Regions from separate parts of the Homo sapiens genome. Here region 1 is linked to region 2. The links come from fine-mapping of genetic effects on gene expression. A gene starts in region 2. The other region holds a variant in brackets. All regions are shown on one strand. Distances are from middle to middle.

Region 1 (5,369 bases), 24 kb before region 2:
CGTGAGCCACCGCGCCCTGCCGAAACTGTGTTTTTTAAAAAACAAAAACAAAAACAAAAAGCTAAAACTAAAACCCAAATCCCAAAAGCCCTTCTTCCACCTAGTGTCTCTCTCCGTCTTTCTCCTTCTTGGAAGGGAAGTCTACACTGGCTGGCCCTACTTTGTGACCTCCCTGCCTTTCCTCCACCCACCTATGGGGTCTCCTGCCTTCCCTGCTACAGCCTCCTCACCCACTGGCAAAGAAATGAAGAAACAGACCCTGCCTGGCTCACTGATGGCCTCTTGATTGCCAGATCCCTGGGACACCTTCCGGTGCTCGTTGACTTGTCCACTTCGGAGCTTCCCCCGCACAGTCATCCCCTGGACACCTCTCTCCTGGGACATCTTGCACTTTGTGGGACAGCACCTTCTCTGTCTCCTCTTAGGGGCTCTTAGGTCCTTGTGTCCTCCAGGGTCTTGTCAACGATCCGTCCTCATAGCACACTCTCTCCTTCAGCAAACTTATCAGACTCATGGCTTCTACTACTGCCTCTGTGCTGAGAATGTTTAGTAATAAGCAACATGTCAAAGATGCAAAATAATCACGTGTGGAACAAGGATACTGTGTAAAGAAAGACAGTTGAAGGAAAAAGAAAAAACACTGATAGGCCGGGTGCAGTGGCTCCCACCTGTAATCGCAGTACTTTGGGGGTCTGAGGTGGGCCGATCACAAGGTCAGGAGTTTGAGACCAGCCTGGCCAACATGGTGAAACCCCATCTCTACTAAAAATACAAAAAAAAAAAAAATAGCTGGGTGTGGTGGTGTGTGCCTGTAATCCCAGCCACTTAGCAGGCTGAGGCAGGAGAACCGCTTGAACCTGGGAGGTGGAGATTGCAGTGAGTCAAGATCGCGACGCGGCACTCCAGCCTGGGCAACAAAAGAGCGAAAATTCCATCTAAAAAAAAAAAAAAAGGGCCAGGCACGGTGGCTCATGCCTGTAATCCCAACACTTTGGGATGCCAAGGTAGGTAGATCACCTGAGGTTGAGGTCAGGAGTTTGAGACCAGCCTGGCCAACATGGTGAAACTCTGTCTCTACTAAAAATACAAAAATTTGGCCGGGCGCGGTGGCTGACCTGTAATCCCAGCACTTTGAAAGGCCGAGGCGGGCGGAACATGAGGTCAGGAGATCAAGACCATCCTGGCTAACGCGGTGAAATCCCGTCTCTACTAAAAATACAAAAAATTAGCCAGGCGTGGTGGCGGGCACCTGTAGTCCCAGCTACTTGGGAGGCTGAGGCAGGAGAATGGCGTGAACCTGGGAGGAGGAGCTTGCAGGGAGCCAAGATCACACCACTGCACTCCAGCCTGGGCAACAGAGCGAGACTGTGTCTCAAAATAAAATAAAATAAAATAAAAATACAAAAATTTGTTGGGCATGGTAGCGGGTGCCTATAATTCCAGCTACTTGAGAGGCTGAGGCAGGAGAATCACTTGAATCTGGGAGGTGGAGGTTGCAGTGAGCTAAGATTGCACCATTGCACTCCAGCCTGGGCAACAGGAGCAAAACTCCATCTCAAAAAAAAAAAAAAAAAAAGTAAAAGAAAAAACACTGATTAAGACACTTGGGTTCCCCAGACAGTCCTTCTATATGACTGTGGGCAAGTTAACATACCACCCCAAGTCTTGGACTTCTCATCTACAGAACTGGGATAAAAATAGTACCTACTTCATAGGGTTGTTATGAGGATTAAATAGGATAATTCTAGAGCAAGCACTCCGTGCGTGAAGTTGCCAACATTATTTATGACTGTCTCTGTTGTCACTTGCAGGGGTAGAGAAGCAATGGGCAGAAGTGAGATGAAACTAAGAAATGGTAGTTTGGATCCAGGTTTTGAAATACACGAGGGCAGTGGACTTCTAGGGTCTGTTGGCCAAGGCATTCCTAATTAGAGAATGCAAGTATCAAGGGGCTGTGAGCCTAGGAGCAGGCAGCCCCTTCCTAAGGCTGCTGCTCTCTTTCTAGCCATCTGGACGACCTTGTGAGCACCTGACAGGGTGCATTCGGCAAGTGGCTGGCCAGCAAGTGGCTGGCCAGGATGCCCTACGTGCACGTCCCGGCATTCCTGAAATAGCCGCCCTGCAGTGGGGGGAG[G/A]TGCTGGTGGATGAGAATGTTAAACAGCTTGGAGCCTGGAAGGGAAAAGGTCACCTCTGGGGCTGTGTCCTCCAGGAGGGGGACACAATTGCCAGAGGAAGGAGTCCCTAAGAAGGATATTGAAGCTGCCCTAAGCTCTTGTGCAGTTGCCACGTCCTGGGCTATACTCCACAAGATCCAAAAGGAGACATGGGGTGGCTGGAGTGGTGTCTGGAGCCAGCTTGTACAGGCTCATGAGAGCCAACTGTTAAATTCTCAAGAATTTTGCAAGCCAGTTGTTACACATAGCCATTATTAAAAATTAAGTTATATAAACTTATGATTATATTAAAAGACTCAAACTCATCACTTTCTAATTATTTTACTATATTTTACTAGTATCTATGCATTTGAGGACATTTATGTCTGTTGCATCTATATGGTGGAAATATTATAGATGGAAATATACAACTCTGTTCAGTGATGCTGTGTTGGTAGTTTGAAATTGGCCATGGTGGAAATATTTACACTACCGAAATCAGCAAATGCTACAAGTTAGCAAACACACACACACACATACACACACACACACCCCCCGCACTGGAGCTGGTTGTTAAACATTTGCCAGCACCTCATTGGACAAACTGATTTCTTTCTTTTTTTTTCCCCCGAGACGGAATCTTGCTCTGTCACCCAGGCTGGAGGGCAGTGGAGCCTTTTTGGCTCAGTGCAACCTCCGCCTCCTGGGTTCAAGTGATTCTCTTGCCTTAGCCTACCAAGTAGCTGGGATTACAGGCACGTGCCACCATCCCTGGCTAATTTTTGTATTTTTTAATAGAGATGGGGTTTCACCATGTTGGCCAGGCTGGTCTTGAACTCCTGACCTCATGTGATCCACCAACCCTGGCCTTGCAAAGTGCTGGGATTACAGGCGTGAGCCACTGCACCTGGCCCAAACAAACTGATTTCTAGGAAGTTTGTTGTTAGCCATTTCTTGTGAGTTTCAGTATTAGCCATCTGCCCCACATGAACAGCGCCTGAGTTCCACTGCAGTTTTTTGGGTCTCCCTAACCCAATATCTGAGTGAGCTACCTTACACGTCCCGATCTCACTAGTCCTACCCCAGCCAGAGATGAGAATGATGGTGGCCATTATTCATCACTTATCACATGTTGCGTCCATCTTCAGTTGAGTTTTGTTTTTTGTTTTTTGTTTTTTTTGAGACACAATTGTATTCTGCCGCCCAGGCTGGACTGCAGTGCAGTTGTGCAGTCTCAGCTCACTGCAACCTCCACCTCCCAAGTTCAAGCAATTTTCCTGCCTCAGCCTCCCCAGTAGCTGGGATTACAGGCACATGGCACCATGCCAGGCTAATTTTAGTATTTTTAGTAGAGAAGGTTTCACCATGTTGGCCAGGCTGGTCTTGAACTGCCGAGCTCAAGTGATCCACCCTCCTTGGCCTCCCAAAGTGCTGGGATTATAGGCATGAGCCACCACACCCAGCCAGCTGAGTACTATTTATTTATTACTATTATTTTTTGAGACGGAGTTTCGCTCTTGTTGCCCAGGCTGGAGTGCAATGGTGCTATCTCAGCTCACTGCAACCTCCACCTCCTGGGTTCAAGCAATTCTTCTGCCTCAGCCTCCCGAATAGCTGGGATTACAGGTGTGCATCACTACGCTTGGCTAATTTTTGTATTTTTAGTAGAGACGGGGTTTCACCATGTTGGCCATGCTGGTCTTAAACTACTGACTTCAGGTGATCTACCCGTCTTGGCCTCCCAAAGTGCTGGGATTACAGGCATGAACCACCGCACCCAGCCAGCTGAGTATATTTTAACCAGCACATTACTATGAGGTTGGTACTAAGCTGTTACTCTACCCATTTTACAGATGATGATAAAGTGAGCCACGGAGAAGTCTGGAAACTCTCCCAAGGCAACCAGCTAGGACAAGGTTGGAGGCCTCACTTAATCACTAGCTCTACTGATAAACAATAATCTGATCATCTGATAAGGGAATTTAATTAAGTGGTTCAATTGCCACTCCTTCATGCTGCCAACCCTGACTACAGCTTTTAAACACCACAGGGCATTGTTTCATGTAGTTTTATTGTTCTTAGTCACAGTAGATAAAACTGTGGACTCTCAAAATGTGACCTATCCTAGGTCTTTAGGAGACTTTTATGAGTAAATAAGACTGTTCTAGAGTTAATGATCCACTATTTCAGTTGATGTAGGGCTTCTAACTCAATCAATTAGGGGTTGAGATCCAACTATGAAACTAACTCAGTTCAAGACCTGGCCATCTCCCATAAGAGCTAAAGCCTAGAGAGTAAAATTATTGTCAAAAGTTACATAGTTCAGCCACGTGCGGTGGCTCATGCCTGTAATCCCAGCACTTTGGGAGGCTGAGGCGGGCAGATCACCTGAGGTCAAGAGTTAGAGAACAGCCTGACCAACACGGAGATACCTTGTCTCTCCTAAAAATGCAAAATTAGCCAAGCGTGGTGGTGCATGCCTGTAATCCCAGCTACTCAGGAGGCTGAGGCAGGAAATCGCTTGAACCTGGGAGGCGGAGGTTGTGGTGAGCCGAGATCGCGCCATTGCACTCCAGCCTGGGCAACAAGAGTGAAACTCCGTCTCAAAAAAAAAGGTAAAAGTTACATAGTTCCTAAGAGGTGAGGACAGAATATTAACCTGACTGATTCCAGAGCCCCTGCTCCAGTGAGAGGAATATAATGGACTATTAGGCTGCTAGTAAAAAAACAAAACAAAACAAAACAAAACCTTGGGAGAAATGATAGTCAAAGGGTACAAATCCTCAATTAGACAGGAGGAATAAGTTTTTTTCTTTGAGATATATTGCACAGCATGGTGAATATAGTAAATAATAATGTGCTGTACATTTCAAAGTCACTAAGTGTAAATCTCAAATGTTCTCACTACAAAAATTATAAGAATTTGAGGTAACAGATATGTTAATTAGCTTGATTTAATTTTTCTACATTGTATTCATAAATCATAACATCACTTTGGTTTTTGTTTTTTTTTTTTAAGAGATGGGGGTTTCACAATATTGCCCAGGCTAGTCTTGAATTCCTGAACTCAAGCAATCCTCCCACCTTGGCCTCCCAAAGTGCTTAAGTTACTGGTGCCCAGCCCATAACATCACTTTGTAACCCATAGCATATACAATGGTAATTTGCCAATTTACAATTTAAAAATATGTTGTAGAAGAATATTTAATGGCAAAG
Region 2 (5,369 bases):
TTCTCTTGTGCCTGGGTTTATGGTGATTGTATACATGTGTGTCTGGCTCCCAGAGGGTGGGGACGGAGTGATACAAATTTTTGTGCCTCCACAGGGAACTTGCACGTGACCTAAATTCAATGACAAATTGGGGTTTGATTGAAAATGTGGAGGGGTGGAAATTTTCAATTCCACTGACCCCAGATGGGAGGATCTGAGCCCCTTTCCTTTAAACACCATCTTTCTCTGCAGCAGCTTTCAGGGCCAATAGTTACCATCACCAGGAATTCCAGACCAGCACAATAAATAGGGGCTGTGGTTTCTCCCTCTTTCTCCTTCAAAAAGTAACAGAAAAAAAATTAGCCGGGCATGGTTGCATGTTCTTGTTGTCCAAGCTACTGAGGAGGCTAAGGTGGGAGGATCACTTGAGCCCGGGAGGTCGAGGCTTCAGGGAGCCATGATCATACCATTGCACTCCAGCCTGGGCAACAGAGTGAGACCCTGTCTCGGAAAAAACAAAAAAACAGTAATGGAATATGGGCCAGGTATGTTGATTTGAACTGGAGTTTTACTGCTTCCCAGCAGTGTGACATTGAGCAAGTGTGGTAACCTCTACGAGCCAAATGGAGCTGGCATCAGCTGCCTCACCAAACAGGATTTACGGGAAAGGCTGGCGTGGAGCTGGGGCCCTGGGAGGCAGGTAGTTAGAATCCGTTTAAAGATTTTGCCTCAATTGCCTCCAGCTGCTGCTGTGCTTACAAGGCACACAAGTGCTCCCCCTCTGATCCCTCAGCAGGCAAAGACCAGACTCTGGAACACACCTACAGTGCTGCCTCTGGCCAGGCCTCTGAGATATGAGTCCAACATGCAGAGAAAGGGGCAAGTCCTTGGTGGGGGGAGGGGGACAGCAATTTCATTACCGCCATTTCAGAGGTGGCAGTATGGGTGGCTGACATACGTAAGTCTGATTGTTTGGACCAGAAGGATCTTCAGGGGTCCAGTCTTCCAGTTTACAGGTGTGGACATTGAGATCCAGGCACCTGATAATACCAGGTTGGCAGGAAAGTCAAATGCCAGAGGCTTCCATGGTCTCTACTTGTGTTTGGAGCAACAGAATTCTGAACAGAGTCAAAGGGATAAGGGGTCTTTCTGGCACAAGCTGGCCCAAGACCAGGCCTTTGACAGAGGCCTCAGACTCTGGGGGGCCCAAAAGCAGCCCTCCCTTGGGCTCAGCCTTCTGGATCCCATGGCCAGAGTAGTAGTTCTGCCGGCTAGGACTTGGTGAGGGGAGCTTTGAAGTCACTAGTTGAAGGTCACCTTCCTGGTCCAGCTCCACCTGGCAATGTTGACTGTGAGGTAGTGGAGGGGAGGGCTGAGAACACAGAAGAGAAAGGTTGCTCCTATTTGGAGTGAATTAGCGTGACTGGGAAAGCAGAGAAGGGAAAGAGGTCAGGTTTTTCCAAATAAAACCCAGCCCTCAGCTGGTGTCTTAGTTTAAGAAAACAGATGAAGAGAGAAACTTTGTTTGTGGCAGAATCAATTACAACTGTCTTTTGTGGCCAGGTGCAGTGGCTCACACCTGTAATCCCAGTGCTTTGCGAGGCCGAGGCGGGAGGATCATTTAAGCTTAGGAGCTGGAGACCAGCCTGGGCAACATAGTGAGATCCCCCCATCTCTATTTTTAATTAAAACAAACAAACAAACCCATCTTTTATATGCAAACAGGCAAAAATGGAACTGTTTCTACTGTGGCTGTTTGACTACTCTAGGGTCTCAGAAAACAACACCCCAAAATGCAGGCCTCAGGAGCAGCTCTCTCTGACCCTCTCCCTCCCTCCTGTCTTTGGCCCCTCACTCTCCTCCGAGGCCAGCCATAGAAACTGGAATCCTTCTTCCTCAAGGCAGGTCATAGAAACCAGAGCCCTTCTCCCCCAAAGCCAGACATCGAACCCAAAAATATTACTCTTTCTCCCACACATTTCTGGGTAAAAACTGGCCATAAATTATCTGACCTACCTTGTTTGCTTGCAGGTCCTAAGACCCCTCCATCCCAGAGAGAGTCCTGCCCCGTACTCAGAAGGAAGGAATGCTGCAGAGAAAGGTCAAGAAGAATCTACACGGACAGGACTTGCTGGGTTTCCCCACTCAGGTTATTGGCCTTCTGGTCCAATCATATTTCTTTTTTCGTGGTTTTTTTTTTTTTTTTTTGAGACGGAGTCTCACTCTGTTGCCCAGGCTGGAGTGCAGTGGCATGATCTCAGCTCACTGCAATCTCTGCCTCTCAGGTTCAAGTGATTCTCCCGCCTCAGCCTCCTGAGTAGCTGGGATTACAGGCGCGCGCCACCATGCCCGATCAATTTTTGTATTTTTAGTAGAGACAGGGGTTTCATTATGTTAGCCAGCCTGGTCTCGAACTCCTGACTTCAAGTGATCCGCCTGCCTCGACCTCCCAAAAGTTCTAGGATTACAGACGTGAGCCACCGCGCCCGGCCCAAAGTGAGATTTCAACTCTCTCTACACCAGCTGGACCTGACAGCGGACTCGCGGAGGCGCAGACGCCGCCGGCGGTCTTAGCTCAAGAATGAAGCAGCCGCACTGGGCTAATGCGCCTTTGGGTTCAGCCCGGCAGGCGAGGGAAGCAAGAGTTCGCTCAGATTGGCTTTTGGGTTTAAGCTAAAGCGTCAGAAACTGACATCCAGGTTTACATGGGGCATCCTGGAGAGGGTCAGCCTCGCAAGCGGCTCTGCTAATCCCCCAGCCCTGATCCCGCTCGCGGGTCCCGGTGGGTCTCACGCCTGTAGCTCCTGCGGAGCTGGGCTTTCAGCGGCGCCCAGAGAAGCACCAGCCGGGCCTGGCCGCCGGGTCCCGGCTCCCGCGGGACGCTGGAGGCGTCGGCGGCCCTGGCCCCGCCTCCTCCCCGGCAAGGCCCAATGGGGCGGCAGGCCCGGCAGCCCCGCCCCGGTGGTGCCCGCGCGGCCAGCGCCCGCCAGGCCCAGCGTTAGCCCGCGGCCAGGCAGCCGGGAGGAGCGGCGCGCGCTCGGACCTCTCCCGCCCTGCTCGTTCGCTCTCCAGCTTGGGATGGCCGGCTACCTGCGGGTCGTGCGCTCGCTCTGCAGAGCCTCAGGCTCGCGGCCGGCCTGGGCGCCGGCGGCCCTGACAGCCCCCACCTCGCAAGAGCAGCCGCGGCGCCACTGTGAGTGCCGCGCGGAGGGTCCAGGCAGGCGCGCGCCCCCAGCTGCGACGTGGCGGCTTCCCAGGCTGGGGCCGGGAAGCACGTCCCGCCAGCCCGCAGCCCGGGGACGGCGGGGTCAGGCGCACAAAGGGCCGCGGGGCAGCTTCGCTCCGCGCTCCCCCGCCCGGCGCTTCCCGGCCGTGCCAGGCGCTGGGGTGGGGACTTGAGGGACGGTGGCAACTGGTGGCCCGGGCGACGGCCAGCTCTGCGCGGGCGGGGGCTCGGGGCTGCCGCGCGCCCCTAGGTATTTCGGGAGGGGGTCCTGAGAGTGTCCCGGACCCGAAGGGTGGCCTGCCCGCCCTGCGCCCCTGGAACGAGACGAGCACCCGTGGGGGGCTGGAGCACCCCGCGCGCTCCCCTGGCGAGAGGGAGGGTCGTGGCTCGGCCCCTGCTCAGACAAAGGCTGGGAGGCGGGAGACATGCACTTCCCCTTCCTTTTCAGCCAGGCGCGCGCTGATACCAGGCCCACGTCAGCTATTTTTGGAGCCTTTTACACGACAGCTGGAGGAGCGTCCTTTTTAATTTTCCCCTTTTGTTTGGCCGCCCCCACCCCCACCCCTTCGCCTTCATCGCTGCACTTGAGGCTCCATCCTGGGGCCTCTCCTTGACTTGACCTGCCTTGGCAGGCACATGCCCTCCCTGCCTGGCTCACTCGCCGCAGAGACCTGGCAGCCCGCGCAAAATGTCACTTTGCGGAATCGTTCCCACGGCTTCTGGGTACCCTTAGTTCCCTGCTTAGGAGGGAAGACAGTAGTCGGGTCGTAATAAGCAAGACTTAGCCCGAGCCTCCGTTGCCAACGCAGGCTGCCTTGCTTGGCGTGTGGGCATCGGCCTGCCCCCTCACCCTGGCTACCCAACACAGCTACAAAAGGCAGGGAACAATGTAGGTCCCTTGGCCCTGCCTAATGCCTGTTGCCATGGAAACCCCTATCCTAATCTGGCCAGGAGCCCCTTGCAGTGAGCCAGGAGAGTGAGGAAGAGGGGATGGGGCCCGCTGGCCCTGACCTGGCCAGAGGAGGTAATGGTTAACCGGATTGTGGGAGCAGCTGACTAGAGCCGGGGGGGTAGGGAGGCTTGGGCCCCAGTCCTACCTTCCCTGCCAAGGAGAAAGGGGCATGTCTGCTTTTGTACCTCTGGGAATCTACCTCAGGGATCTGCCCAACAACTCCCAGGTTCCAAGTGCCCCAGGACCCAAAGATTCCCATATAGCACACCACCTTCAGCAAAAATATGGTGGAAGTTAGCCACATTCTTTAATTCTCCCTTTTTTTCTGCCTTGATGGTAAAAAAAAAAAAAAGAAACAAACAACCCGAAAAACACACACAAACAGGAACACAAAGCGCCTTTTAAGGGTCCTGAATTTGGATACAGAAAAAGCAGTCAGTTGCAGGCCCTTCTAGAAGTCCCCATGTGGGTTGGTTATGAATGGGGAAATTGCTTGGTGTTGGAGTTGGACATCAGACTCTACAGTTGCGACTCTGCCAGCTTGTTACCTGGCAACGCAGCTGGAGACAGAATACTTGGCATTCCCCTTGATGACAAGGAAAGAATATTTTGGGGCTAAAAGAGCCCCGTGTCTTTGCTGCCTGGTAATTCCTGCACGCATCTTTTCCTATTTTGCAACGCCATAGGCTTCCAGCGACTGCTGGTGATGTTTCTGGTAAGTTAGAGCTTGGGGCAGTGCGGACCAGTTCTGTGAACGGCTCAGTGGCAGAATTACTTATCTAGCCTTCCTTCACTCCTAACCCAGAAACTTCTTAATTCTTGCCCCTTAAGTGTGCAGATCTTTCTGCCACGTCAGATAAGGCCCTAGCTGCCCTGCCAGAGCTGATTGGGGTGGTTGTGTTTAGGCCTAGTAGGTACTGAGGAAAAGCCTCTTTGGAATGGCTGAGGCCTGCTCCCACATCTTCTGTGTGAAGTTGAGGGCCCTTGGGCTGGTTCCATTCAGGGTATGAGGTGCTGGAAACTGCTCTCAGATTACTGGAAGCCAGGGTCTGTGGCCTTCCCTGGGGTTTATACTCTGTAAACCCATGTTAAAAATACCAGCAGATTGCAAATATTAGTACACTGTAGGTTGTAAGCTTCTTCAGGGCATGGGGCCTATTGCTGGAGAGAGATGCCACCCGTGTACATCTGGTGCAGGCTGCTGGTAAGAAC

Alleles and levels. Alleles are on the strand shown, and positions count from the first base shown. SD is a standard deviation of normalised expression in the study named.
In carriers of allele G in region 1, the expression in left ventricle of the gene that starts at base 2,980 in region 2 tends to be higher than with A alone (small effect, 0.22 SD a copy in GTEx).

What was found. PIP is the estimated chance that this variant, and not a neighbour inherited with it, causes the effect. A credible set is the group of variants that fine-mapping cannot tell apart.
Region 1: its variant is the best candidate, but not a certain one, in a credible set for the expression of IDH2 in left ventricle (GTEx, PIP 0.53).

What each region holds. Positions count from the first base shown.
Region 1 is chr15:90,123,591-90,128,959 of GRCh38, reverse strand. All of the region lies in intron 2 of IDH2-DT (IDH2 divergent transcript), which reads right to left. Among named protein-coding and RNA genes, the nearest start is that of IDH2, 24 kb to the right of the region's middle. The variant G/A (reference allele first, on the strand shown) is at 2,135.
Region 2 is chr15:90,100,079-90,105,447 of GRCh38, reverse strand. It overlaps IDH2 (isocitrate dehydrogenase (NADP(+)) 2), which reads left to right and starts at 2,980. Exons shown (of 11, transcript NM_002168.4): 1 at 2,980-3,172. The coding sequence starts at 3,058. It overlaps IDH2-DT (IDH2 divergent transcript), which reads right to left and starts at 3,316. Exons shown (of 3, transcript NR_149130.1): 1 at 3,070-3,316; 2 at 1,996-2,068. RefSeq lists silencers at 2,770-3,229, 3,550-3,619, 4,110-4,199, 4,260-4,309 and enhancers at 2,844-3,698, 3,699-4,554.